4 linked regions of the Homo sapiens genome follow. The protein of the gene in region 1 interacts with the protein of each later gene in a pairwise test. Each region holds a gene or a part of one and is shown in the gene's direction. Other genes may lie near its edges. The genes, in order: HSD3B1, GSN, NEK7 and DLST.

What was found.
Region 2: the proteins of HSD3B1 (region 1) and GSN interact in binary tests that used the Homo sapiens proteins (3 or more experiments, as listed by UniProt).
Region 3: the proteins of HSD3B1 (region 1) and NEK7 interact in binary tests that used the Homo sapiens proteins (3 or more experiments, as listed by UniProt).
Region 4: the proteins of HSD3B1 (region 1) and DLST interact in binary tests that used the Homo sapiens proteins (3 or more experiments, as listed by UniProt).

What each region holds. Positions count from the first base shown.
Region 1 is NC_000001.11:119,502,592-119,510,214, forward strand, and holds the start of HSD3B1 (3 beta-hydroxysteroid dehydrogenase/Delta 5-->4-isomerase type 1), read left to right. Parts: upstream 1-4,618; 5' UTR 4,619-4,671; intron 4,672-4,800; 5' UTR 4,801-4,885; coding exon 4,886-5,030; intron 5,031-7,623. UniProt on the Homo sapiens protein: A bifunctional enzyme responsible for the oxidation and isomerization of 3beta-hydroxy-Delta(5)-steroid precursors to 3-oxo-Delta(4)-steroids, an essential step in steroid hormone biosynthesis.
Region 2 is NC_000009.12:121,271,146-121,278,171, forward strand, and holds part of GSN (gelsolin), read left to right. Parts: intron 1-664; exon of another isoform or gene 665-718; intron 719-7,026. UniProt on the Homo sapiens protein: Calcium-regulated, actin-modulating protein that binds to the plus (or barbed) ends of actin monomers or filaments, preventing monomer exchange (end-blocking or capping).
Region 3 is NC_000001.11:198,292,994-198,300,019, forward strand, and holds part of NEK7 (serine/threonine-protein kinase Nek7), read left to right. Parts: coding exon 1-46; intron 47-4,133; coding exon 4,134-4,247; intron 4,248-7,026. UniProt on the Homo sapiens protein: Protein kinase which plays an important role in mitotic cell cycle progression. Required for microtubule nucleation activity of the centrosome, robust mitotic spindle formation and cytokinesis.
Region 4 is NC_000014.9:74,884,916-74,891,941, forward strand, and holds part of DLST (dihydrolipoyllysine-residue succinyltransferase component of 2-oxoglutarate dehydrogenase complex, mitochondrial isoform 1 precursor), read left to right. Parts: intron 1-670; coding exon 671-719; intron 720-4,179; coding exon 4,180-4,232; intron 4,233-4,359; coding exon 4,360-4,434; intron 4,435-4,981; coding exon 4,982-5,037; intron 5,038-6,140; coding exon 6,141-6,252; coding exon of another isoform or gene 6,253-6,311; exon of another isoform or gene 6,312-7,026. UniProt on the Homo sapiens protein: Dihydrolipoamide succinyltransferase (E2) component of the 2-oxoglutarate dehydrogenase complex. The 2-oxoglutarate dehydrogenase complex catalyzes the overall conversion of 2-oxoglutarate to succinyl-CoA and CO(2).

The sequences.
Region 1 (7,623 bases):
GCTAGCCATGTGTAGAAAGCTGAAACTGGATTCCTTCCTTACACCTTATATGAAAATTAATTCAAGATGGGTTAAAGACTTACATGTTAGACCTAAAACCATAAAAACCCTAGAAGAAAACTTAGGCAATACCATTCAGGACATAGGCATGGGCAAGGACTTCATGTCTAAAACACCAAAAGCAATGGCAACAAAAGCCAGAATTGACAAATGGGATCTACTGAAACTAAAGAGCTTCTGCACAGCAGGAGAAACTACCATCAGAGTGAACAGGCAACCTACAAAATGGGAGAAAATTTTCACAACCTCCTCATCTGACAAAGGGCTAATATCCAGAATCTACAATGAACCCAGACAAATTTACAAGAAAAAAACAAACAACCCCATAAAAAAGTGGGCAAAGGATATGAACAGACACTTCTCAAAAGAAGACATTTATGCAGCCAAAAAACACATGAAAAAATGCTCATCATCACTGGCCATCAGAGAAATGCAAATCAAAAGCACAATGAGACACCATCTCACACCAGTTAGAATGGCAATCATTAAAAAGTCAGGAAACAACAAGTGCTGGAGAGGATGTGGAGAAATAGGAACACTTTTACAATGTTGGTGGGACTGTAAACTAGTTCAACCATTGTGGAAGTCAGTGTGGTGATTTCTCAGGGATCTAGAACTGGAAATACCATTTGACCCAGCCATCCCATTACTGGGTATATACCCAAAGGATTATAAATCATGCTGCTATAAAGACACATGCACACGTATGTTTATTGTGGCACTATTCACAATAGCAAAGACTTGGAACCAACCCAAATGTCCAACAATGATAGACTGGATTAAGAAAATGTGGCACATATACGCCATGGAATACTATGCAGCCATAAAAAATGATGAGTTCATGTCCTTTGTAGGGACGTGGATGAAGCTGGAAACCATCATTCTCAGCAAACTATTGCAAGGACAAAAAACCAAACACCGCATGTTCTCACTCATAGGTGGGAATTGAACAATGAGAACACATGGACACAGGAAGGGGAACATCACACTCCGGGGACAGTTGTGGGGTGGGGGGAGGGGGGAGGGATAGCATTTGGAGATATACCTAATGCTAAATGCCGAATTAATGGGTGTAGCACATCAACATGTCACATGTACCTGCACATTGTGTACATGTACCCTAAAACTTAAAGTATAATAATAATAAAATAAATAAATAAATAAACAATTGAAAGAAGTGAAAAACAATGATGTGAAAAATTGAACTACTCTTGCAGTGTTGATGGGACATGCAGCCACATTGGAAAACAGATTGCCAGTTCCTTAAAATGTTAAATATACATTTACCTTATGATCTAGCACTTTCACTCCTAGCTGTCTACCCCAAAGAAACAGAAACCTATGTCCACACAACACATGAATGTGAATATTCATAGCAGCTTTATCCATAATAGTCCATAAAGTGGAAACACATCAAATATCGATCAATTGATGAATGAATAAACAAATGGGAGCCATCCATACAATTTAATAGGGTTTGGCACCTAAAAGGAGTAAAATATTGATACGTGCTACAACATAGATGAACCACAAAAGAACATTAAGCTGGCCAGGTGTGGTGACTCACACCTGTAATCCCAGCACTTTGGGAGGCCAAGGTGGGTGGATCATTTGGGGTCAAAAGTTTAGATCAGCCTGGCCAACATGATGAAATCCCGCCTCTACTAAAAATACAAAAATTACCCAGGCATGGTGGCAGGTGCCTGGAGGCTGAGGCAGGAGAATCACTTGAACCCGGAAGTGGAGGTTGAAGTGAGCCAACATCGCACCACTGCACTCCAGCCTGGGCAACAGAGCAAGACTCTGTCTCAAAAAAAAAAAAAAGTATATTAAGCTAAGTGAAAGAATAGAAATACAAAGACCAAATATTCTATGATTCCATTTATATAATGTCTAGAAAAGGCAAATCTGTAAAGTCAGTGAGTCAATTAAAGGTTGCCTTGAGCTGTGAGTAAGAGTAAGGAATGGTGACTGATGAGCACGAGGGATTTCTTAGGAATGATAGAAATGTTGGAAAACAGGATTACAGTGATGGTCCACACAAGTATAAAATTTTACTAAAAATAATTGAACTGTACACTTAAAACAAGCAAATGTGATGTCAATTATACCTCAGTAAACCTATTTAAAAATAAAAGAAAGTTGGTAGTATGGTTCCCAATCACTCTGGACCTTTGTTTTATTTCTCCCTTTCTTTAGGGCTTATATTTATTGCTTCCACTCAGAGACTCCAAGACACATGAGCTGAAATCTACGAGCCTCCAGAACGTTCAACAGCTGAAAGAAAGTCCAGCCCCACACTGAAGGCGATGGGGGATCTTTAAGGTGCTCTCCAGCACTGCTACAGCAGGCAAAGGCATGCGATGCACCTGGGTAGTTTCAGATAGTACTCCACAAGTCTCAGCAAGACCCAGGGCCTGTAAATAGTTCTGATAGTTTCAGAGAACAAGCTGCTACATCTTGTAGCACAAGGCCAACCTTTCCTAGGCAAGTGGTTTTGAAGCATTGGTAGTGAGGTCCAAAGTAGAAGATGAATGTCTACAACATGGAGGAGGGCAAGACCCAGAGTGGGGTGTCAAACTAAATCATTTGTAGAGTATTACTTTCAACAACTGCAGAAAGCATTCTTTTCAAGTGCTTATGGCATGTTCACCAATGTAGACCATATGCTGGACCATAAAACAAATCTCACTAAATATTCAAGAATCAAAATCATACAGTGCATATGCTCTGGCCACAGTAGTATTTAATTAGAAATCCATAACAATGAGATATCTAGAAAATCCTCACTTTTAGAAAACAAGCAACACACTTCTGAATAACACTTGGGTCAGAGAAGAAACCACAAGACAAAACTTTAAATATTATTAACTGAATGATGATAACCCAATACATCAAAATGTTGGGTACAGCTCACACAGTGCTTAAAGAGAAATTTACAACTTTTAATGCCTATAGTGGAAATAGGAAAGGAGTAAAGAAAAACAATTTTCTATGCTTTTATTATCAGGATCCTGAAAAACGGGGCTGGGTGCAGTGGCTCACGCCTGTAATCCCAGCACTTTGGGAGGCTGAGGCGTGCAGATCACAAAGTCAGGAGTTTGATACCAGCTGGTCAACATGATGAAACCCCACCTCTACTGAAAATACAAAAATTAGCCCGGTGCAGTGGCGGGCACCTGTAATCCCAGCTACTTCGGAGGCTGAGGTGGGAGAATTGCTTGAACCCGGGAGGCAGAGGTTGCAGTGAGCTGAGATGGTGCCCCTGCACTTCAGCCTGGGTGACAGAGCAAGACTCCATCTCAAAAAAAAAAAAAAAAAATGTGAAAAACGAGTGAAAAAAAAAAACAAAATTAATAAATGTAAGCCAATAATAAAAATAATGAAAATCATGAAATAGAAAAATAAACAACAGAGACAATCAACGGTCAATTTTTCTGTACTCCCTGCACAAAACTTCATTTCAAAATAATTTTATATTTAAATATATATCCAGAACCACAGAGATCTTAGAAGAAAAAATTAGAGAAATATAGAAATAAAATGAGAACTGTGGGAATAAAAATCAGGAAGTAGTTGCCTATGAGGTAGATTGGGGGAAGGTCAGGGAATTAACAGGGAACAGGCAGAAAACAACTTTCTGGAGTGACGGAAATGGTCTATATCTTTTTTGGGGTGCTACTTACATGGGCATATATAACTGTCAAGTTCCACTGAACTGAACACTGAAGACCTGGGCATTTTAATGCATGTAAATTATATTTCAATTTTTTTGAGTAAAGTGTCTTGGGAAGCTTATGGCGGTGATATTTGGGCAGTTCTGGGGCATAGGCTTCAGAAGCATTCACAGTATGTCCAGTTCAAGAATTTGCTGAGAATCGTTTTGCAGCCAAAAATATGGATAAGTTCGAACACCTATGATAAGAGTCATTGGGGCATACAACCACAAATCCCCACTCTTGTGATACAGGCCATATCATTAAGTGGTTATCACCAGATAGCTTTCCTTCAATGATGTTGTTCATCTAGGAACCCAGGGCTCTCCAGGGGCAAATGACCATTGAGGTTTCAGATATATTGGGTAGGAAAGAAAGTCACCTCACATAAAACTAAGTGATTGGAGCTGTCACCATTGCAAATTTCTAAATTTTGTAAGACAGCAGCAACATTTCAAATGATAGTCTGAGAGAGGAGATAATGGGCTTACATGGATTTCCCTCCAGATGGATTTACTGAACAAGGGCACAATTCAAATTGCACTTGCAGATTTCTCCTGGTCTAGTTTAAGTTCACAGATTGTGGATCCCAGACAGCTGGTATCAACTGACTAGTGTCCTGTTAAGGCTAAACCCAAGACTCTTTGCCACACTGCAGCATTAGGATGGGACTTCTCTTCCTGTTCCTGGGAAGAATTAGAGATGTAACCCAAAGGTCACTATTTTTCTGAGATAAGGATCCCATAGGAGGAGAGAGCAATGAGTACATGGCCAGAGATCAAAGTGATAAGGGTTGGGCCAGAAGCCACAGTGCATAAAGCTTCAGACTTGCCACAGGAAATGAGGTGAGAAGTACGTCCACTCTTCTGTCCAGCTTTTAACAATCTAACTAATGGTTAGAGATTTTTCATTTTCTTTCAGCTACTCCTGCAGTGGTGGGGACACAGAATGTTTGCAAAAAAAATGGGGTGGAGGAAAATGAGGCATCTGTGTGAGTATATAACCATTTGACATCTCTTTTTAGCCCTCTCCAGGGTCACCCTAGAATCAGATCTGCTCCCCAGCATCTTCTGTTTCCTGGTGAGTGATTCCTGCTACTTTGGATGGCCATGACGGGCTGGAGCTGCCTTGTGACAGGAGCAGGAGGGTTTCTGGGACAGAGGATCATCCGCCTCTTGGTGAAGGAGAAGGAGCTGAAGGAGATCAGGGTCTTGGACAAGGCCTTCGGACCAGAATTGAGAGAGGAATTTTCTAGTAAGTAAACTTGGGTCATGGGTGTGTGGTTCCATCTTAAACACTGCATGTATGTGGGGGGAGATGGACCTTGTCTAGCAAGTTATTGAAATTTGTAGCCAAATCTAAGCCAATCTCACATCCAAAGTCATCAAGAAATAAATATTAAATAGTATAAAATGGCATAGTATGAAAGATACTGGGTGGGATTTCCAGAGACTAGATTCTGGCCCTGACCCAGAACTTGAGAAGCAGCCACCTCAGCCTCCAGGCCTCTTTTCTTCTCATCTAGAAAATCCCACATCAGTTCTTTGTCTTGTCTGCAACTCTTTTATGTTCTGAAGCTTTTGTCTTGGCAATTGCTGTACAACATTCATAAAGGACACTATTACCCTGGAGACCTCACCAATGGGTCATTGTCTCTCTAGAACGTGCCAGGCTGTGTTTTGTTTTGCAGCTTCCTTAGTATCCTTTGTGAGGGCAAAATAAAAGGAAGTTAAGGTAAAGATGAGTGTATAAGTGGGTGTGTGTGACAGAGAGAGAGGAAAACAATAAGGGGGAGAGAGAGTCGGGGAGAGAGAGTCGGGGAGAGAGACTCAGAGAGAGAGACAATGAGAAAGACAGAGAAATAATGAAAAATATATAGTGAGAGAGAGAGCATCAGTGAGAGAATGTGTGTGCACAGTGCACAGCACAGAGCAGAGACAGAGTAAGAGGCAGTATAAGGCCAGACATGCCTCATTTAGATTTTGCATATATGGCTTTTTTTTAAAAAAAAAAAAACAAAACATTTACCTCTGTTGCTCATCATCAAAAAGAAATTGACTGCAGAATTTTCTGTGGCAACTCCTTGTACAAATGGCCCCAAGAGGCAGGTAGAAAAGGCATCACATCCAACAGGACAATGAACGCATCAAGGTCCGGAATCACAAAGCAACATGCTAAGGCCATCTGATTGATGCGTAGCAGAGCTCAGACCAGAGCTTTATCCATAGGCTATTTCACCTGGCCCCAGAGCTGATGCTTGGCAAAGTGGATCTTCAGTCTCTCCCTTTGCTCCTTGGTGTGCCCCAAAACAATTCCCTGTCCTCCTCCCCAACCCAGGGGATTTGGGGGACTGTGTGTCTACATGTGGGCTCTGGCTGCCCAGAGGGTCCTGCCCTGCCCACAGAGAATCCCCCACTTGACAGCACTCAGGGACCACACCCAACACTCTACTTTTGCTCTTCTCTGACCTCTTGAAATGTTCGATTTCTTCCACCCTCTGTTTTAATGTTGTCTTTGATAAACAAATATGAAATGCTTATAATCCTTGCCTGTGTCTCAGCAATATTTGCAATTTAACATCTGAAGCCAGAAAAAAGCAATGCTCAGCCTAGAGGTATTGTTCCCCTATGGTAAAAATGCAGATCATATAATAGACAGGCAGGGATCTGTATGAAGATAAAAACAGAGAAAGCATTCAGTGTTCTTTTTGTGCCAGGCACTTGGCCAAAGGTTTGCCAACTCATTTGCTCCTCATAACAACCCTATGAGATCGGTAATATTATCCTCCTTTTTTAAAGATGAGGAGATAGAAACAGAGAGGTTAGTTAACTTTTTGAAGGTCCCACAGTTAGCATATGGCAAAGCTAGATTTGAACCCAGACAGACTAGTGCAGCATCTGTGCTCTTAAGCAGTAGTTTGTCTTACAGCTCCTTTAGGCCTTCCTCTAGCCCAACTTACACCATAAAAGCAACTCCATTTAGTCTACATAAAACACTTGCCAAGTCTACAGTGCCTTGGAGAAGAAGGGAGCCATGACTTCATCAACAAAGTACCTTTTCCTAGTCCCTCTAGATCCCTGGGAACTCACTGGGGAAGAGTCCTTTTCTCTCAGCTTTGGACTTCTTCCACTTTGACACTCCTTTGAGCCAGTCTGTCTGAAGTGGCAGCAAAGAAGAAGCAGAGGAAGGCAGCAGGAAGGGCAGAGGTGGAACTAGAACCAGAGAACATCCCACTCTCAGGCTGTTACCCACATCACCACCAGCAGCCTCTTCCCTGACTCCCCCACTCCAGGACCTTCTTGGAGTTGCCTGACAACGGGAAGAGGTTGGGAGTAGACAAAACATGGCAGAGGCATCAGGAGAGCAAGTGGTCCTGCTTGTACCCCAGGAAGGAATTTCTCCAGCTTCGAATTTTTCACTCTGAATTTTGCTCTCACTGGTCTTTGGTCTTTGTTGCCAATTTCAGTTAAACTGGCTTATTCTTTGGAAAAGAATGATATTAAACAACAGAAAAGTTGATATTAAACAGCCAGTCCTGCACCTGGTGTACAGGGTACAAGCTTGGAGGCAGGGTGGGCGTGTTTAAGCCTTCACTAGAAACGTGACCTTAGATCTGTCCCTTAACCTCTCTGAGACTCAGTTTCCTCACTGATAAAGTGGGACTCAGAATACCTACCTCATGAGATAGCTGTAAAAAGAAATAAATATCCTGTAAGTTGCATACAGATGATAAAGCACAAACAAGTGTAGAGTATTTATCCAAGCTCCATGTAGCATGGTGTTCATTTTGTGGGCTAATTCCAGGTGACAACCTTACTGGCAGCGTCACTTCCTGTGGATTTCAGAG
Region 2 (7,026 bases), on another chromosome or scaffold:
GATGGCTTAAGCCAGGAGTTTGAGACCAGCCTGGTCAACATGGTGAAACCCTGTCTCTACTGAAAATACGTGCTGGGATGCTCCTGTAATCCTAGCTACTTGGGAGGCTGAGGTATGAGAATTGCTTAAACCCTGGAGACGGAGGTTACAGTAAGCTGAAATCACGCCACTGCACTCCAGCCTGGATGACAGAACAATACTGTCTCAAAACAAAAAAAGAAAAGACAAAAAAAGCTATCTTTTAATATACCAAGCACTGGAACATTAATTACTTTATTGATTCCTTGCAACCATTCCTCTGAGGTAGATACTAGTATCTTCTTTTACAGATGAGGAAACTGAGTCCGAGGCTGAATAACATGCCCCGGGTTGTGTGGCTATTGGGTGATGGTGCAAGGATTCCAGAGGTCTGACGACAGAGCCATAGCTATTAATGACAGCACTAAACATTCTCTTGAAAATTCTTTCTAGTCCTGGTATTAGGAGAACTGGTAAGGGAGTTTGTTATGCTTTTATGAGGGGTGGGTGTCGGTGTGCAGAGCTTGGAGAGCTCAGCCCTGCAGCAGAGAGGCCTGGAGGGGCCTCCCGGGGCTGTTTGTAAACTCATGCTTTCCTGTGCCATCCGCAGGACCCTCAGTGCAGGTCAATCTCCCCTCCATTTCAGGGAATCCAGGCTCCAAAAGGACACAGGACTTGCCCAGCAAGGTCATGTGGTGAGGTGAGAGCCCAGCCAGGACTGGTCCCCCCTTTTCATCAATCAAGCTTATGCTCTGGAAATCTATCTGGCGAAGCCAGGAAAACTGGACACTCTCCTGCTCCTTGGTTATTCCCTGAGAAAATGCCAGCAGAAGCAGAGAAAAGCACGTCCCAGGGGTTATGCATTTTGGGGAGGAAGGGAAAAAAAGAGACCAGTGTTTAGGCAGCCGGGGGATGTTAAGTAAAAATATCTCCTCGCTTTCAACGGAGTGAGCGTGTGTCATATTTCAGCCTGATGTGGTTTGTGAAGTTGGAGACCACAGGCAGGCTCAGTTCCTGCTGCTGGCCAGCTTCCCCTTCCCTCTGTCCCTCCCCTGCCATATGCCTGCTCTCGTCTGCCCTGCCTGGGACCACATCAGCAATTTAAGAATAGGGCAGAGAAAAGCAGTGGGTGTTGTGGGCAAGGGTAGGCAGCTGAAGGCCTGGGCTTGGGTCCTGGCTTTGCCAGTGACAAAGTACTGGGTGACTTGGGCTAATGCATGCCTTTCTCTGGGCCCCAGTGTCCATTCTGCACTGTAGGGTGGACAGCATAATGTCAGCCTTCCCAGCTCTGATGGCCTCTGAGTTGGAGGGCTTTGTGCTCCCCACATGTACTTGGGTCCGGCATGTCTGAGACACAAAGTGAGCCCGCAGTGGTGCAACTGGTGATTCAGCTACTGTTCTTGAATTTAATCTTTTCGGACTGAATTGATTGCCCCATTTTGCAGATAAGGGAGTTGAGGCCTAGGATTTGTTGATGTATCCCATTCCCTGCTCTACAAGCAACAATAATAAGGGCCACCATATGTAACACACTTACTATGTATGTTCACCTTTTGCTTTCACTATCTGCTTTAATCTTTTAACAGATCTACGAGGGGAGAGATAGTGACTCCATTTTACAGATGAGGAAACTGAGGCTCAGTTTAGAAAAATGAAAGGACTTACGTTCTCTTCTTTGAGTCTCACAATAGTCCTGGGGTTGTCATTATGTGACCCATTTTACCAGTGAGGAAACTCAGGCCTGGAGACGTGAGCTCCTTTGCCCAGGGGTCCCCAGGGCCCACACACAGCCTGTCAGGTTCCTTCCCAGGCCCTCCTGCTCCTCCCTCCTCCCTTGCTTGCTCTGCCTCATGGGGAGCCTCTTCACCTCTTGCATTCAGTGCCTGGGTTAAGGGATGAGAACAGTTTTCTTCCTGGGCTATAAAGTATCCCTGAAATTGACTCTTCCCAAGAGTGATCCAGAAAGGCTTTAAGCCATGGAGCCTCGCAGGGAACTCCAGTGAAGGGGTCGCACCAGTGGGAGTGGATTCGTTTATTCTGCTGAGCTGGCTAAGCAAACAGTCCTGTTATTTTCCAACCTCAATAAGAATATCATCAGAGCCAAGCTTATTTGCCAAGCAAAGTATATATATTCTACATATGTGAGCCTTCAGGGTGGGGCTTGGCCCTTAATTTCCCTGCTACAGAGACTGTGGCTGAGCTGGGTTTTGGTGGGTACTAAGTAAATACTAGTTAACTTGTTGGGTGTGTGTTGATGATGTGGGTGGCATATGTACTTTTTTCTCCCCACCTCCAAGGACCTTTTCCCCCCACCCTTATTATTTCTATTACACTTGTGATAGAAAATTTAGGAAATAAAAAAGTATATATATAAAAAAGAAGTGTTCATAACTAACCAGAGAAAATCACTGCCAACACCTGGGTGCCCTTCCTTCCTGATATTTTCAGTGCATTTTTTTTTACCCCCACACAATTATCCTATATTTATAATTGTCTGTTCTGACTTTCTGTTTTTTCTCAACATTATATCGTAAGTATTTTTCTCATGTTATTAAGGATTCTTTTTAAATTTAATTTTTAAAAGTTTTAAAAGCATACTATACCTAAGTAGATAAATGTTTATTCTAATTTAAATCTTTTATTCCAATAGTCCTAGGGATTAAAAAATGAAATAATGCTTTTTATTTATTAACAAAAAGGCTGAGAGAAACAGGATTTGCCCAAGATCACCCCCAAAGAACCAAGACTGGGGCTCCCCAGGGCTGTAGTTTGCATCCATAAATACAGAGAGAATAATGTTTATAATCTTGGGTATAAAAACTTCTGGTGAAAAGGTTGATCAAATGCTAGCTGTATTTCTCCCCCTTCCATGGCTTTCTACTGAGTCTCTCTCTCCTACAGGACCCTACTTTGCTCCATAATTAAGCAGCAAAGTATTTCAAGAGCTGTTCAGATTCTAGAAACTCATAGCAGATGAAATCGACAGATAAGTCAGATATCGAATATAGACATTAAAAGATCTGGGCACTAGGCTGTACCCTGTTATTGTCAGTGGCTCTTTAGTCCTTAAACAAGGGTCTTGCCTCCTACTTTTTTTTTGTTATGGTAGAAATAAATGCCCACCCGAGTTTTCATCACTCACTATTATTCTATCTTTGGTGTGCCTGTACCATGTTCCCTTAACAATCCTCAATTATGAAACATTTAGGCAGTTTATAAACAATACTGCAATGAACAACCTAGTGCATACTTTTTTTGTGTGTTCTTCTTTTATTATTTCCTAGAAGTGAGCCCTAGAAATGGAGTTCCTGAGTCAAAATGACACATTTTATAGCTTTTTCTTGTTAAAAAAAAAATTCAGTGACACTTGTGAAAACACGGTAAGGAAGTCTTTATTCAGGAACATTGCCTTGGGCATAGGGACCACTGCAACAGGGTCCTACAGTGAGGGAGAGAGTTTGGGCTCAACTCCTAATACAGCATGGGCGAGTGGGAATTGATAGCTGCAGAGCAGGGTAGGGGTCAGCGGATGGAAAATTACTAAGAGGAAGCTCAGGAATAAGGGATATTCTTGCTAAACCGACCTAACAAAATTATTGATGAAGACAAACCAGGGTGATTCAAACATCAGTGGGGGCATGGTGGAGGATGAGGAGCCTGATCAGATATCAAGGATGAGGGGTTCTGGCTAAACAGACTTAGCAGGATTCTTTTGCTAAAACTGGATTTTACAAGGAAGTGCACAGGTAGGCCTAGGAGAAGGTTCAGAAGCCTGGCTAAAGTTTGGCCAAGCAAATAATCTGTGTCATGCTAAATTTTGCCAAATTTCTGCTCATAAAGGTTACAGTAGTCCTTATTCCTACCAGCCATCCGTGAGAATGGCAGCATTCTTCAGGAGCATCTGAAGCTGGTTATAAAAAGCTCAGCTGTCCTTTTATAGAATAGAGTACAGCGACCATTTTCCTGAAACGTTACATTTCATTCATTCATTTGGCAAATACACTTGCACAATTCAGCAGCAATAAAGCATAACAAGTTAAGATCCCAGGCCGAAGAAGTGGAGAGAACTTGGTTCTCCTTCTGGTTTATGTTTTGCACTTGCCCTAAGACCTTGAGGACATCACCTCACTGAGTTTCATTTTTCTCAGCTATACAGTTAGGGCTTCAATACCCACTTCACAGAATTCTACAAAGTACCTAACACAATGCTTGGCCAGTGCAATCATGTGGATGCTGGGAATTTGTATTATCTCATCTGACTCCAAAGAGCCCTGGAAAGGAAGCAGGTAGGGACAGATCCTTCCCATTTCATGGACTCAGAGAAGAAACGGCCATGTTTCTTGGTGTCCTGAGCTTCACTTCAGGAACTGGTAGTCCAAAGGAACTGTATCGTTCAGAACGGAGGTAAAACAGGCTTTTGTGGGCTAGCCTGTATCCATCCCCCTCCCACCTCCCCTCCCACCACAGTACCTGTTTCTCTTGGAAGGCAAGTTCCCAGTTCCAGTGGCAGCCAGAATTCTTTCTATGCTCTTTTAGAAGGTGGGAGATGCCTGCCTAGACTGTTCAGTGGTCTTAAAAAAGAGACCATAAAATTCATGGTTGCATAAAATATAGTTTTCATAGATTTAAATTGCATTTTAAATGCACTAAGGCTTCATCTTTGAGCTTTTCAGAAATGTGGGATTTCAGACTCCATCTTTAGGGTTGCCTTATTTAGCAAATAAAAAACAGTGTGCCAGTTAAGCATGAGTATGGCCCTTGGAATGTTTGGGGCATAATTATACCAAGACATCTTATTGTCTTTCTGACATTTAGATTTAACTGGGCATCTCATGTTTTATCTGGCAACCCTACCCACCTTGGGTCTACTGAATCCAAATCTGGATTTTCACAAGATCCCCATGGAATTCGTGTGCGAATTCAAGTGTGAGAAGCATTGCATTGGGAGCCTTGCCATCAAAGCCCTGAATGAATCCTTTTTGTAACAAATCTGTTGGTAAAATATAATGCACTATTTATAAAGAGCCTGATTATTCCCAAATCAACCATTTGCACACATCTGTGTGTTCATGTGTTAGGTTTTCTTAATACAGGCTACCCTTGCACTGTTGTCAGTTGAAGGGAAGAATTCCTTGCTTTGGTAAGAAGCCCTAGCCCCTCTCAAGGACCTATTTTCCTCATCTGTAAAATGGGCTACATCCTTAGCATCCGTGCCAGCCTGTGGTGACCAGCTGAGGTGGCCCCAAGGGGATGCATGGCTAGAGCCCACGCCAGGTCCCTCCTCAGCCTCCTCACAAAGGACCGAATGACTTGGCTCTGTGATCCCATCCCCCAGAGACTTTGGTGTGACTGTGGTGACCCTTGGCATAGCGCACCCCCCCGACTGCCTCCTCATCTCAAAACTTTCCAAACCATGACTTTTATAGCAGGGCTTTAGGAATCGCCTGGCTCTACCCTCTCACTTCATGGCTACAGATACTTGTGCCCTGAGAGAGCAAGTGAATTTCCCAAAGCCAACAGCAAGCCCTCTGATTGCTGCTCTACCAAACCAAAATGATTTCAGTTCTCATGAAACCTAAGGCCTGACTAAGGAAGATTAAGAAACCTGGTGGTGGTCGGGTCCTGTAGTGGGGTGGGAGGAGGGGGGAGGGATAGTATTAGGAGATATACCTAATGTAAATGACGAGTTAATGAGTGCAGCACACCAACATGGCACATGTATACATATGTAACAAACCTGCAGGTTGTGCACATGTACCCTAGAACTTAAAGTATAATAAAAAAAAAAGAAAGAAAGAAACCTGGTGGTGGTCATACGCCTAGTTTGTCTTGGTTGTGTGGTCTTGGGTAAGTCATTTCTCTCTCTAACCTATTCCCTGCCCCCACCCCTCCATAATATGGGGAATACACATTTTCCTGTTCCCCTAGGTCTCCTTTCTACCTGGTTAAGGTTTTATTTTAAGATCCAGTGGTAGATCTTGGTCTGTCAATTGGTCCTAGAGTGGAATGCTTTATGAAATCACTGGTACATGTGTTAGGTCAGAGACTTAATACCATGACATCATGAAAGATGTCTTTAGACCCTTTCTCTCCTCATTGCTAACAAAGATTTTATGAACTGTGTTTCAGCTGGACAAAAAAGATGTTCTAGAGCATTCTAAGATCGCCTGGGGCTTTTGTTAAAATGCAGATTCTGGTTCCACAAGTCTGGGGTGGGGCCTGAGGCTCTGCATTTCTAGTGATGCTGATGTAGCTGGTCCAGGGATCACACTTTCAGTTGCAAGATTTGAAAACAATCTGTTATTAGTGTAGAATCAATACTTATGAGATAAGGGACTTAAGAGGCAAGTCCCTTGTTCAGGGCTAAAGACCCAGTGACAGTAATAGGGTCTAGCCTGGAGCCCAGATCTTTTAATGTCTTGTCTTTGACATCTGACTTATCTGTCTATTTTATCTGCAGCTATGAGTTTCTAGAATCTGAACAGCCCTTAAAATACTTTGCTGCTTAATTATGTAGCAAAGTAGGTTCTTCTTTAGGAAAGAGAGTGACTCAGTAGAAAGCCATTGGAAGGGGGAGAAATACAGCTAGCATTTGATCAACCCTTTCACCAGAAGTTTTTATACTTGAGATTATAAACATTCTTTCTGTATTTATGGATGCAAACTACAGTCCTGGGGAGGCCCCAGTCTGTTTTTGTATGCCTCTGAGCTAAGAATGGTTTTATAGTTTTAAAGTGTTGTTAAAAAACAACAATAACAAACAAACAAGGAAGAATATGCAACAGAGAGGGTGTGTAGCCTATGGAGCCTAAAATATTTACGGTCTGGCCCTTTTACAGAAAAAGTTTGCTGACCCATGATCTAGAGTACCCAAAGATTTGCATGTTCTTTTTTTTTTTTTTCTAGTCAGCAAGAGGCCCAGCCTTATAGCTTTGAAATATAGTGAGGTCAAGACGTAGGGGAGGCAGCCTGCGTTGGTGGGAACTGCCCAGACATCTTAGCTGTGTG
Region 3 (7,026 bases), about 79 Mb from region 1:
CAACTTCAAATCTGACATCTGGTCTCTTGGCTGTCTACTATATGAGGTAGGTAATGTTGATAAATTCCAAATATTGATGCAGTTTTACTTAGTATATTTCCTCTATCCTTATAGTATATACTTACTTTTTTCTGGATGTTTAAGAATCACCTTTTTAATTGTGAAGAATTTTCGTTGGGTTAATAACTTTGTATAATGGAATTTAATAACTATACATTCCTACACATCTAATATATTTTTAAATTGTGTTCTTTTGATGAGAAGTTTATTTTTAAAGCATTAACTTTTATGTTAATATAACGCCTTTCTCTATATCTTGCATTTGTAAAAATATACGTTTGAACATCTGTAAATCTTGATCCATGCATTACAGGAGTGGCATAATGGATTGGATTTAATATATGAAAGTATAGTAAATATTTTTATCAATATTTTATTTCACTTTTACACAGGTGTAATTTAGCATTAAGGATAGTATGCAAACAGATAGTTCTTCTAGGTTATCAATTTAGTTTCCATGAGTAACAATTTGTATTGGTAAAGCTCAGTGAAATACTCTCTCTTTTGTTCTACTGGTGATCATTTATCAAAGGAAGATGGAATCATGTAGGTAGGTCCTCTAGAAATGTTGCACTGTAATAATTTGGGTGGATAAAAGAAAGCATGTTAGTAACACATTTTACATCTGTGTTGGTATAAAAGTATCTCAAGCTAGTGACTTCTGTAATTTTGTTTTTTTAATTGAATGATAATTTTCCTAGGAATATAGGCTTCGAGTCAAAGCTGTTAATTAAAAATTAGTCTATATCTAAGTAGGTTTTAATAAAGTGAGGAAATGTAATACATGGAAGCATTTTCATATCCCTGTGTAGGAATCATTTTCATATCTCTGTGTATATGAGAGAAGTCTAAAGAGGATAAATAGAAACCAATGCATTTCCTACTATATATATTTCCTGTCTCTTGTCCTCCAGAATTAAATGAAATATATGATGAAATCATCTATTTTAATTGTACCACCATTACTTGGAAGTAGAGCATTAGGAGGTGTTTTTTGACTCTTTAAAAATGTATGTCATGATCTTTTATTATTTTATTCATTGCAGATTCAAATTTCCTTAATTTAAGGAACCTGAAATTATTTGTTTTGTCCTTCCTACTAAAGTGACTAACAACTACTTAAAATGAAAGGATTTTTAAATATTCTTAAATAAACTCATACTTTGGATAATTTTTGTTATGAAAAATTATGAGTCAGTAATGTAACAAAACATGTTTTTATATGTGCACGAGATTACAAGAAATTACGCTCACTGTGTTATATTTTGTTAATAATTTGGTACAATCCTAAAAAGAACTGGATTGTTTATATTGTTACTATAATGTTTAAAAGTTAGTCACTCTGTACATTTAAAATATTTTATATTTGTTTAGTTAACCTTAGATTCCTTTAGGCCATAGTCTAATATTATCAAAGCAACATATTCTCTTCAAATCCCTAAAAGTAAACAGCAAATTGGTTTCCAATAACTAGATTAAATTTAGCAATAAAAAAGAAAAAGTTCTGTTGAGGTAGTAAGTGGTTTTTGAGAGGAAGTTTGCATAATTCTTTTAGATTTAGCATACTCATGTCAAAACTGAAATAATTTATCACATTTTGAATTTGCCTTTGAGAGACGGTGTCCCATTTTTGTATGGACTTAAAATGCCACAAAAATAAAAATAACATCTTTGGACATTTCTACATCCATGAGTTATATGTATTGTGGATGATTTTGAGTTAAAGTATTATCATGCTAATGTTAGTTTTCATCTCAACGCATTTTCTTGATTTCTCCATGCAAATCTTTTAGAAGAACTAGAATTTTTCTAAAGCTTTAATTTAAATTTATGTTCTATTTCCTTTCAGTTGTGTTTCAATGTACTGTTAATAGAAATAGCTAACAGTTTGGCTTTTAAAAATTGGTCATAACATCACGTATTTTGTATTGTACCCACTAAAAAATTACTATTAACAATGAAGACGTAGGAAGCCTTTTTTGAAAATGTATTTTAAACTCAGAAAATTAGACTTTCAAATATTCCTGAAACCTCAAAAAAAAAAAAAAACTAGCAGTACAGTTTTAATTGATATGCAACAAAGTAGACTTTACTAATTAAAATCAAGATGCTGTGCTTTTGCTACACGGACCTTTACATGGAAAAGTAGGTTTTACACATTTCCTTTATTGTTCAGCGCAGCAATTGCATCCTTACAGGGTTGTAGGTTGGTGGCTTACAGTTCAAAAAAAAAGAGAGCTGCCACCAGCCCCGAAGACAGACAGTGGGCTTTCGTCCCTCCGACACCCCCAGAATACTAATCAGGAAAGTCAGACCCTGGAGGTCAGGGAGTAAGTCAATCATTCTAGCGATCGTCTCAGTGTGGAGGATCAAATTAGCCTGAAAAATTCAGCTGCTGGGAGGAGAGGGCGAGCAGCTGTCAGGGGCAGCATCGAGATGCACTAATGAACCAGATGAATAGTGCAAAAGCTTGAAAATAAAAACAGGACAGTTGACATTTTTCATCTGTCAAAGCAGGAGATGCATGAAAATATACTATTCCTGTTTAACTCCTTAGGGGACATTCAGATTTTTTTTTTTTTTAACACTCTGCAGTACTGAGAAAAAGGACTATAATGAACGCCTAGAATATGATAATGAATATATGTACATTTACTTAAGGTTTTGCAAACACGGAGAGACTATAGTTTATATATACAGTGTATTTTTAAGGTAAGATCTTAAAGTGTCCTTGCATTTAAAACAAAAACCACTATTATTATTATTATTATTATTATTATTATTATTGTGGTTCTTTTAGAAATTTCCTCTCAGAGTGTTTTATATGATTAGGGGCATTCAGATTGTTTTTAACTTTTTTCTCGTCATGTGAAACAACTCTTCCTAAGGTACTTCTATATAGTTGTGTGCACGTTTTATGTAAAACATAGGCAAGATAAAAATGTGTTGAGCTACTTTCCAGTTTTGATTTCCAATCCCATCCCCTTCTCATCAAGGCTCTGAAGGAGTTAAAGCTCTGTCTGGAGCACAGAAGACAGATGAGAGCCATTTTCAGCTTGTCCTGTCCCCACTGACGCTCACTGAGTAGCACAGCATGGACTAGCGTGTTTCACACACACTCTGCCTGTCTGGGGAATGTACACATTGTCCTTCCAAAATCAAACTTATTAGCACATGTAGAAAAGGGTGACTGACTTTGGGGCAGCCTGGCACTCCGTGTTGTATTCTTGCTGCTGTGGTTCAAAGATTTAGAAGGTTTTGAACAGGATGCGAACATTTTAAATTGAATTTTTAGTTTGTAACACTGCTTACCACAGTACTTGCTTGCACTTTAAATGTCAAGTTAGAACCTTGTCTTAAAATAAATTTAAATTCGATAATGTCTTTTTTAAAGTTGTTCATCCTTTGGGTCGTGTTTTTCTGCATAAAAATCTCATTTGGAAGCCTTGAATTACAGCTATGACTCATAGAGCTTTTGAACATATTTAATTTAATGTTTTTGAGACATTATCAAAAGAGTTCTAATTCATTGTAAACTATTTGGGGATCAGTTATTGCATTTAAATTGAAAAGACTGCTTTTTCTCAGAATAACCTTTATCTTCAGAAACTATTATGCAAGAGAAAATGCTCTGCATTCTCTTCCCTATGCTAGATTATAATTCAGTTTTAACTTCAGTTTCATGTTTGTTCTGTATGGTTGAGCTACACCTTGTGATGACTGTTTTGTTGTGAGATATAGTAGTTGTTTTTGTGTCATTATAGGTACAAAGAGTTTTTAAATTATGTGTTATTTTTCTTTATTGTTTTATGTTGCATTTGTATATAAAGAAATATGCTAATTCTCTATTTTAGGGAATTTTAAATGTTGGAAAAAAAATAACCAAAAGTTGCAGTAAGATTTTTAACTCTTAATAAATTTCCTCAGAAGGGGATATTCATAAAAATCAAAATGCCCAGGTATCTCTATTTAAAATATTTGTGATTATTTTCTACCCCCGTATAATATACTTGATGAAATCACCTTTTAAGTTACCATCTAACTATATCAGTTTCATTGGGGGCATTTTACAGATGGCTGCATTACAAAGTCCTTTCTATGGTGACAAAATGAATTTATACTCACTGTGTAAGAAGATAGAACAGTGTGACTACCCACCTCTTCCTTCAGATCACTATTCAGAAGAAGTAAGTCATTTTCAGCCCACATGTTCTTCTGTTGTCCATTTTGCTAACATTTTTATTTTACCAAGAAATTTTACTTTATCCAAAAATGAAAATGAATGGTATAGGTAGCAGAACTAGCACTTTTTAATTCTGTTTTCATTCTCTTGGAGACTTGCTGTCTAAAGAGTTGACTCTGCAATTGATAATGTGTAGTGCAACACAACACAGCATGTGGTGTAAAATTGGCCACTTTCTAGGTGTGATAAGAATAGTAGCTGACTCTACAGTGTACTGAATCGTGCAAAGGGCAGAATTAATGCTCATACTTAGGCTCTAGTTAATCATCATGTCTGATGGCCCTTCCTAACAGGGCTAACTCCTTATTCTCACAGTCCCAGACCAGACCAGCACACAGTTGTAATTTTCTATTTTGGCAGAACTTCCCTTTCGTCCATGTTTTCCAAAACTCGAAACACGCATCTCTTAACTACATATCTCTGAGCCTTATTATTTAAGCTTTACCTTCTCTCCTTTGACAATACCTGTCCTATCATCACCTCACTGCTATACTCAGATTCTACTGGGGAAATGTTTCGAGGTTATCATTGTAGACATGTTTAAAAAGTGTGTTAGTTGTGGCTGAAAATCTTAGAAGGCTACCTTATTAAGATCTGAGTCTGAATGCTTGCTTGCTTGCTTTGGTAACCCATTGAAGTGAGTTGTTTTGGCTCTACCCTATGTCCAGTCTTTCATTGAACAAAACATCTCCCATTTTAGCCTAACGTATCATCATTTTACGAATATTTAAGGAGGATGTATGCAGAATAGCAGTATCTCAGGTCAACTAAAATGTTTCATATTAGCTCTTTATGGAATACTCATCAGGGACCTACCCAGAGAAAATAGTGTGTTGAGTTAGGACATCGCACCTTCTCATGAGCAACAGATTTTTTGCCTCAGGAAAATGGAAAGGAGAAAAGGAAAAATATAAAACAATTATAATGTTCACTTATTAGGTAATCATGTCAGTCTTTCTATTGTGAAACGAATAGCATAGGGTCTTAGTATTATGTAAGGAAATTTGAGTTCGTGTAACTTGAATAATAAATATCTCTAAAGAATTTTCACCACATGTAAAGCATTTGTGTTCCTAGAATATAATAGGCACTTTTTCTTCTGGTAGTTTTGATACTGATAATCAGTGATGCCTGTTTTTTTCTGCATAGCATTTGTATTCAGGTAATTAGAATAAACTGTTACAGAGCAGTGATGATAATTTAAAAGTATTATCTTTATTTGATGTTAATACTATTATGTTAGCCATTTTTAATTACTATTTTGGGTATAGACTATAAATATGGCATTTCACAAAACCAACTTCAGAACTATAGGCCTGGAAATACAGTGGGGTGTGAACAATAATGCAAAATGATAGCAAGAATGTCAGGGGCCTTTCTTTGTTGTGTCATTCATGCTGTCTTCTTTTTTCCATGAAGCGCATGAATATTTCACATATCTGCATCCTCATCCCCTATTCTTCTTGACTAATTTTCAGACTGTCTGAATTTGCATTTCACATGGTAGCTGATTAGGAGATGCCGAGTGCAGCAGTGAAGCCTCAGCAGGCGGTTACCATGGTGACCTTCAGCAGGATTTTAATGATGATACCACTAGTGGTTCGTTGAAGTCGGCCTGCCTGCAGGGCTACTTCACTGCAGCTAAGTGTGAAGTTGGATATGCGGATTCTCAGCCAAGGGGCAAATATCAAAGTCTGGCCCAGATAGAAGGTCTTAGAGTTGGGAAAGGAAAATAGATTCCACTTTTTACTTCACTCTATATAGTTACCAGTTTCGAAAAGAGCTGTAAAGCAAAACACATTATATGGTGTACTTTCCAAAAAAATGTGATTCCTCGTATTGGTAAAATGTGTTGTCATTCCCTGATGAAATAGAAAGCTGTAGTTTCTAGGTAAATGTGGAAAATAATTCTTACTAAAGAAATGAATATAAAAATATGCGGACTGTATAACAATGTTACTTTAATCTATTTAGTTATGTAGAAGAGTTCTCAAAACAAGAGCTTTGAAATGCAGATGTGCTAATAAATATTTTCTCTCCTTAAGCAGGAACTCAATTTGTAAAATAATTATTCAGAATTCATGGTAGCCAAAAATCCCAAATTTGGTAGTGCTATAATGTCTTAAATTTTTTAAGTAAAGTAGGCTTTTTAGATCTTTTAAAAATCTAGAATATCATTTAATTTGTTAGTATGGCAAAATACAGGAACTAATAAAAAGTGAAGTACAGAGTTTTTCAACAGTGAACTTTTAATTAAAAGACAGTTTATTTTGTTAATTTTATAGCTACAATGATAACAGAGTGTGTAACTATTTGAAAAATAAAAAAATTTAAGCAAATCAACTTATCAGGTATGTATTTATGAGCTTACCAAATTTGTGTAGCTACTGCCAAATTTTTAAGGTTACTGCCCAAACAAGATTTTAAGGGAGGATTTCATGAGAATACTAGCCATACCTGCCAGTCAGCCTCAGTTGATAGGAATCCTCAGGAACCCTACACAATTTATTTCTAGATATAGTCATTCTATCTAAGAACCTAGAGTTTAAAAGCTTGGGATTTTTCTTTTAATTTCCTATCTTATATTCTAAAACATACATAACAATTAAGCATTAAAACAAAAAATGAGAAGTTTTAGAAAAATAAGCCTGAATGTCAAATCTTTTCTTTTGAATTATGTGAGTCTTAGTGTGTACAAATAATTAGGGTTCTGGATTGAAATA
Region 4 (7,026 bases), on another chromosome or scaffold:
ATGCAGTTAACTATGATAAGGACAGCTGGTGGGCAGAAAGGGTCTCTCACCTTGTTGAGAGTGACCAGGGTGGAAGACTTCAGAAAGGCATGGGAAGTCAATAAACTGAAAGATGGGGACATGATTTTCTCAGCTCTAGGACAAACTGGAGACCCCGAGCCTAAAGTAGCCAAGTCTTTGCTACTAGGATTCAGGTGATAAGATTTCCAACCCAATCTTTTCAAACCCAGACCAAACATCCTCCTTGCTTCTCAAATTGGGTTATGTATAGTCACAGGATAAGCCATCCCATGTCTTTCTCAAGCTTCAGTTGTATTTGAAGACTTGGCGAGTAGAGACATTTTATTATGAAAACATACAGGAATAATGAAAAGTTCTGGCTTTTTAAGGTAGATGAGATTATATAATCACTTTGGGCTGTGCCATCAAATTTTTTCTCTTTCCTCCCCAGCCAAACACATACCCACTCGATCTCACATACCCATTTGCTCTCTGCCACTAAGGCTACTTTGGAAAAGTTTGAGAAGCAGGACTCTATGATAAAGATTATATCCGTTGCCGTTGATCCTGCTCTGTCTCAGGGTTGGGGGTGAGCAGACCTTTTCCATTCCCAGCATGTATCCTTTGTGAGATAAGAGTTGTTGGTTAAGAGTTATTTTGTTTCTTGCAGGGGTCTCCTTATGCCAGGGACCAGGTTACCCTAACAGCAGGAAGGTTGTGTAAGTATCACTGGGGAGTACAGATATGTGGCCACGGGTTATTTATTTAAAGACATAAAGTTCTAAATTTGACCATCTGATTTCTTCACTGGCCTCCAGACCTAGAAATTGAGGTGATTATGTTGAGTCCCTAGACTAACCTCAATGTTCACTTTTCCCATGTGATGTTCCTTGAGCATCAGCTCCGTGTCAGGTTTTGGACTGGGAGTGTGCCCACTCTCCACAGGTGTTTGGATTATAATGAAAGTTAAGTTGGAATCCTCTTTTTATGGGATATAGAAGGGTGCTCCTAGATATTCTGTTTGGATGTAAGTGCAGCTGAAAGGCTCGAGGTTACATTTATTGTGGAGATTGAGAGCATCCTCTCAGTAGCATAGTTACTCATTTTTAAAAACAGTAAAAGCATAAAACTGGTTGAGTCCTGGGACTGACTGACTAGTTTGGAGGGAATGCTGTTATTGCATAATGCAGAGTTTGGAGAAAGGCTACCCATGTGTGTTTCAGATTAACTTCTGCGTATGAATGTTGCTTAAATGCTGCTTTGCATTCCAAGTGTTTTTGTGGTGGTGCTAAGAGAATGCTCTCTAGTAACCTGTTCAGCAGCTGTCAGGCTGCTTACTCTACAGGGAGAATCCTCAAAGTGAAGAGGTCAGCGGATGAGCTTCTTACTTACTCTACATCACAATGAGGGTTTTTGTTGTTGTTGTTTTGAGACAGGATCTTGCTCTGCCACTTTGGCTGGAGTGCGGTAGCCTGATCTTGGCTCACTGCATCCTCAGCCTCCTGGGCTCAAGAGATCCTTTCACCTCAGCCTCCTGAGTAGCTGAGACTACAGGCACATGCCACCATGCCCGGTTGTTTTTTGTATTTTTTGTAGAGATGGGGTTGTTTTGCCATGATACCTGGGCTGGTGTCAAACTCCTGGGCTCAAGCAATCCATCCACTTGCCTTAGCCTCCCAAAGTGGAGGATACAGGCGTGAGCTATGGTGCCTGGCTGATTTTTTAAAATTTGAGTAAATGTTGCACTCAGTACTAGAAATATGAATCCCGGTGTTATTTTGGAGGGCAGTTTGATAGTCATAAGTCTTTGAAGTGTGTGTACCTTTTCTTTTTTTCTTTTTTTCAAGATGGAGTCTTGCTCTGTCACCCAGGCTGGAGTGCAGTGGCGCGATCTCGGCTCACTGCAGCCTCTGCCTCTCGGGTTCCAGCAATTCTCCTGCCTCAGCCTCCTGGGTAGCTGGGATTACAGGCGCACGCTACCACACCTGGCTGATTTTTGTATTAGTAGAGACGGGGTTTCATCTTGTTGGCCAGGCTGGTCTCTGAAACTCCTGACATCAGGTGATCCGCCCGACTCAGCCTCCCAAAGTGCTGGGATTACAAGCATGAGCCACTGCCCGGCCTGTGTGTTCCTTTTCATCTAGCAATTCCATCTCTAGGAATCTATACTGAAGAACTCCTGGTATATTTATCTCAGATTTAATATCTGATAATATAAATATTATCAGATTTATCTTAAAATGGCAAAGAGCAAGGGATTGGCTAAACTATAGCATGTTCACATGTTCACACTATGAAAAGTGGGAAAAAGCAGGTTACAAAATAATTTCATTTTCTACTGTGTGGTATGATCCCATTGTAAGTATTCTTTTTGCTATTTCTAATATTCTGTAGTGAACATCTAGTTATTTAGAGATTCAAAATGTATTACTCATCTGCAATCAAATGAAAATTGGGGCAATCATGACTCTCTACAATAAATACACTAAATATTTGAAAGTAAATAATGAAGAAAAAGTAAACTTTGTGTGGGATCACCCCAATCATGTCACCCTAATCCAGTATCTTTGTGTGTGTTGTGCCTTTTTTGTGAATAAGGTACCCACTTTATTTAATAAATCTTTTATTGTAAAACAATTTTTGGTTTTATGTTTTTACTAATAGTATTATATTTACATGATTAAAAATTCAAAAAGTAAAAAGGGTGTCCATGAGAAGACTTTTTTATCCTTGTCCTCTAGCCCCCCGAATGCCTCTTGGGTAGTGGTGGCCACCACTCCGGGTTCCTGGATGACTTGCAGAGCAGCCTCTGCACTTGCATGTTACCTGTTAGTTCTTGCCTATAGGCATGTACTTTACAAGGTTACAAACTATATGTAGAACAATTTGTATTCTTGTAGTTTTTAAATATCTTCATTTTTTCTTGGTTATACATAGACCTTATAGTTATTTTGACATTATAAAAGTAAAAATACCTAAAGACAACTTAAATCTCTTTTACTTTTCTATTATAAAAATGCTTGTTGTGGAATATTCAGACAATCCTGAAGTGTAAAAAGTGAAAGTCCCCATCCAAATCATTCTCCCAAATTGTGTAAGTGTGCAACACATAACCAGAGATACCATATATGTCTACATCTCTCACCCCTCAGAGGTAACCACTGTTAATGGCTTTGTGCATACAGGGTGAGCTGATTCTCCAGTTTATATTATTTACTGTAAAGGCCATATCAGTAAACGCCTTGGTCTTTGAGGTTCGTTTTGAATGAATCCAGAATGTGTTGATGTGCTGTTTTCTAGCAAGAGAACCGAGTAGGAGATACCATATGGGGTTTGTGTGTGGTTTTTTTGTTTTTGGGTTTTTTTTTTTTTTTTTTGGCATAACACCTTGTTTTACTTCCGAGTTAACCTTGTTAATCTTGCTGCCTTATCTGATCTAAATCTGTTATCTTGAGGGCAGAAATTCCATTATACCTTGCACAATGGCTTGTACCCTGGGCAGGCCGTAAATCTATCTCGGATTTAGTTAAGGAAGAGACCTGGCTGGACATGGTGACTCACTCCTGTAATCCCAGCACTTTGGGTAGGATCTTTGAGACCCGTCTGGGCAATGAAATCCATAGTCTACAAAAAGTAATTTAAAAAAATTATCTGGGTGGCATGTGCCTGTAGTCCCAGCTACCCGGGAGGCAGAGGTGGGAGGATCCCTTAAATCCAGGAGTTTGAGGTTACAGTGAACTATTATCATGCTACTGCACTCTAGCCTGGGTGACAGAGCAAGACTCTTATCTCTTAAAAAACAAAAAACCAAATCAAGAAGCTAAGTCATTTCGGTCTGCAAAGGACCAAGGTGCTTATTTTTTTATTGAAAGAGCCAAATGTAAGTCTGTTTTGTGAGAGTTGGCATTGCATTGCAGCACAGGGGCCTGAGCATACTTGGGGAGCTCACCATTTAAGGTACCTGGGTCGTTAGGCTCTACTCCAGACCTGCTGAGTCAGAATCCCTGGGGGAGAGGCCTAGACAAGTGAACTTTGAAAAAGTTCCTCCCCAAGTGACACTGATGGACACCCCTGGTCAAGAGTCACTGTTTAAGGGGAAGGTGACCCATGGGGCCTTAACTAGACTAAAATGTGAGTGGTTCGCCTGTTAAAAGGAGTTAACGTGTGTTTCTTTTGTAGCATTAACAACAGTGTCTTCAGTGTTCGCTTTTTCAGAACTACAGCTGTATGCAGTAAGTACCTGCTTTCTTGGGAATGGAATTTTATGGGAAGAGCAACAATTGATTGAGTTTAATTAAAGAAAAATATTAAAAAGGAAAAATGAACTACTTATGATTTTCTTTTTTGCATTTTTCCTAGAGGATGACTTGGTTACAGTCAAAACCCCAGCGTTTGCAGAATCTGTCACAGAGGGAGATGTCAGGTGGGAGAAAGGTAAGATTTAGTTTCCTATTTTTTTTTTTTTTTTTTTTGAGACAGAGTCTTGCTCTGTTCCCAGCCTGGAGTGCAGTGGTATGATCTCGGCTCACTGCAGCCTCTGCCTCCCAGGTTCAAGTGATTCTCCTGCCTCAGCCTCCCGAATAGCTGGGATTACAGGTGCCCACCACCATGCCTGGCTAAGTTTTTTGTATTTTTAGTAGAGACAGGGTTTCACCATGTTGGTCAGGCTGGTCTCAAACTCCTGACCTCAGGTGATCTGCCCACCTCAGCCTGCCACAAAGTGTTGGGATTACAGGCCTGAGCCACTGCGTGAGCCACTGCGCCTGGCTCCTCTCACTTCTTAAGTTTAAGTGCTATCTAAAATTCTCCCCTCCCCTCAGGATAGTTGTAGAATTTATAGCTCTGCCGTTTTCTTTACATATGTACTTTCTGCTGGCCCTGTAGGAAAGGGTTCTTATAACATACCTGCCAAAATGGGTTTTGTGGCTACTGGAGGCTCCCCGCTAACAGGTAGCCTTGTAGCCTTTGATTGTCTTTTCAGCTGTTGGAGACACAGTTGCAGAAGATGAAGTGGTTTGTGAGATTGAAACTGACAAGGTAGGCTTATCTTATATTCGTACCAGCTTTTCATGGGCTTCCCTTAGTTAACCTAATGAAAGAAACAGGGACTTAACCATTGTTTAGAGATAATTTTTAACTAGCTCTAACTTCAGTTGTAAAATTATTGGATTTGTTCAATTTAAAAAAAAAACAACTTTTTACATTTAACTTTTTTTTTTTTTTTTTTTTTTTGAGACAGACTTGCTCTGTTGCCCAGGCTGGAGTGCAATGGCCTGATCTCAGCTCACTGCAACCTCCACCTCCTGGGTTCAAGCGATTCTCCTGCCTCAGCCTCCCTAGTATCTGGGCTTACAGGCGCATGCCACAACGCCGGGCTAATTTTTGTATTTTTTGTAGAGACAGGTGTTGCCAGGCTGGTCTCAAACTCTTGACCTCAGGTGATCTGCCCGCCTTGGCCTCCCAAAGTGTTGGGATTAGAGGCATGAGCCACCGCACCTGACCTGCATTTAACTTTAAATTGTTTGCTGTGTGTGTACTATGTACTTCATTTAGTAGCTTTAGTCTTGTAGTGTGTGGTGAGGGGGTGGGGAGGGTAAATAAGCTGTTTCCACTTTTTCCTGTATCACTTGGAAACATATTAACTGAATATTGCCTGAATGTTTCTGAGAAAGGACAGAAAGTGAATCTTCACAGTAGCGATGACTTGTTATCACCCTTGCTCTGAAATTATGGCCTTAGATGTTTGTGTGCAAGGCCTTATATATTGTGTTGCAACTCTTGTTACTCACTGGAGATACGCTGTTGTTGTTGTTGTTTTGAGACGTTTCGCTCTATCACCCAGGCTGGAGTGCAGTGGCACGATATCGGCTCCACCTGCCAGGTTCAAGCGATTCTCGTGCCTCAGCCTCCCAAGTAGCTGGGATTACATTTTTGTAGTTTTTAGTAGAGATGGGGTTTCACCATGTTGGCCAGGCTGGTCTTGAACTCCTGACCTCAAGTGATCCGCCTGCCTTGGCATCCCAATATGCTGGGACTACAGGCATGAGCCACTGTGCCTGGCTTCATTGGAGATTCTATACAGCTAATTTTCTAATGCTGGATAAACATTTGGACTTCCTCCATCTGTCTTCCTCTTCCAGACATCTGTGCAGGTTCCATCACCAGCAAATGGCGTGATTGAAGCTCTTTTGGTACCTGATGGGGGAAAAGTCGAAGGAGGCACTCCACTTTTCACACTCAGGAAAACTGGTGGTAAAGAAGTTCTCCTGGTGGTCAAGGTCTCCAGTGTTCCCTCTTGGGATTGGGACTGAGCATAATGTGCTAATTCCCCGATATGTCAAAGACTCTTGTCATTCCAGCTGCCCTTAGTTGAGGGAATAAGGGGTAAATTTATATATAGTGTGAACTTCAAATGTCAAATTCTAAAAGAAAAGTGTATTTTTTAAAAAATAAACCTTATACTCTGTTCTTTCCATGGGTGTTTCTTAGCAGGAGCTGAGAAACTGGACCTTTTCTTATAGATATACAGATTGAGCATACCTAATCTGAAAATTCAAAATCTGAAATGCTCCAAAACTGAAAATCCAAAATCTGAAATGCTTCAAAACTTTTTGAGCACTGACAGAATGCTCAAAGGAAATGCTCATTGTCTTTTATGGGGAATTCAGTGTTGTTTCTTTTCACATCTGTTCTCTCATATCTCTAGGAAGGGTTGGTATTTCTTTTGGGAAGAAATGAGAAACGAATTTGTACTGGACCTGATAGGATTAGAGATTAATAACTTTATCTGACTCTTAGTTAAATTTTATAACCACTAAAAAGTCTATTTCTTTTTCCTAAGCGAGAATCGTACCCGTAGACCAACGAGTCACAGAAGTCTATTTCTTTTTCACTGTTACACTAATAAGGCAGATAGACCGCATGATTGAGGTTAGTCAGGCAAGACCAGAAGCTCAGAGTAGAAAACATGTATGGTAGAAGGCTGGGAAATAAGGTAGTCCTCCTGTTGCAGAAGTTTGTCTTAGC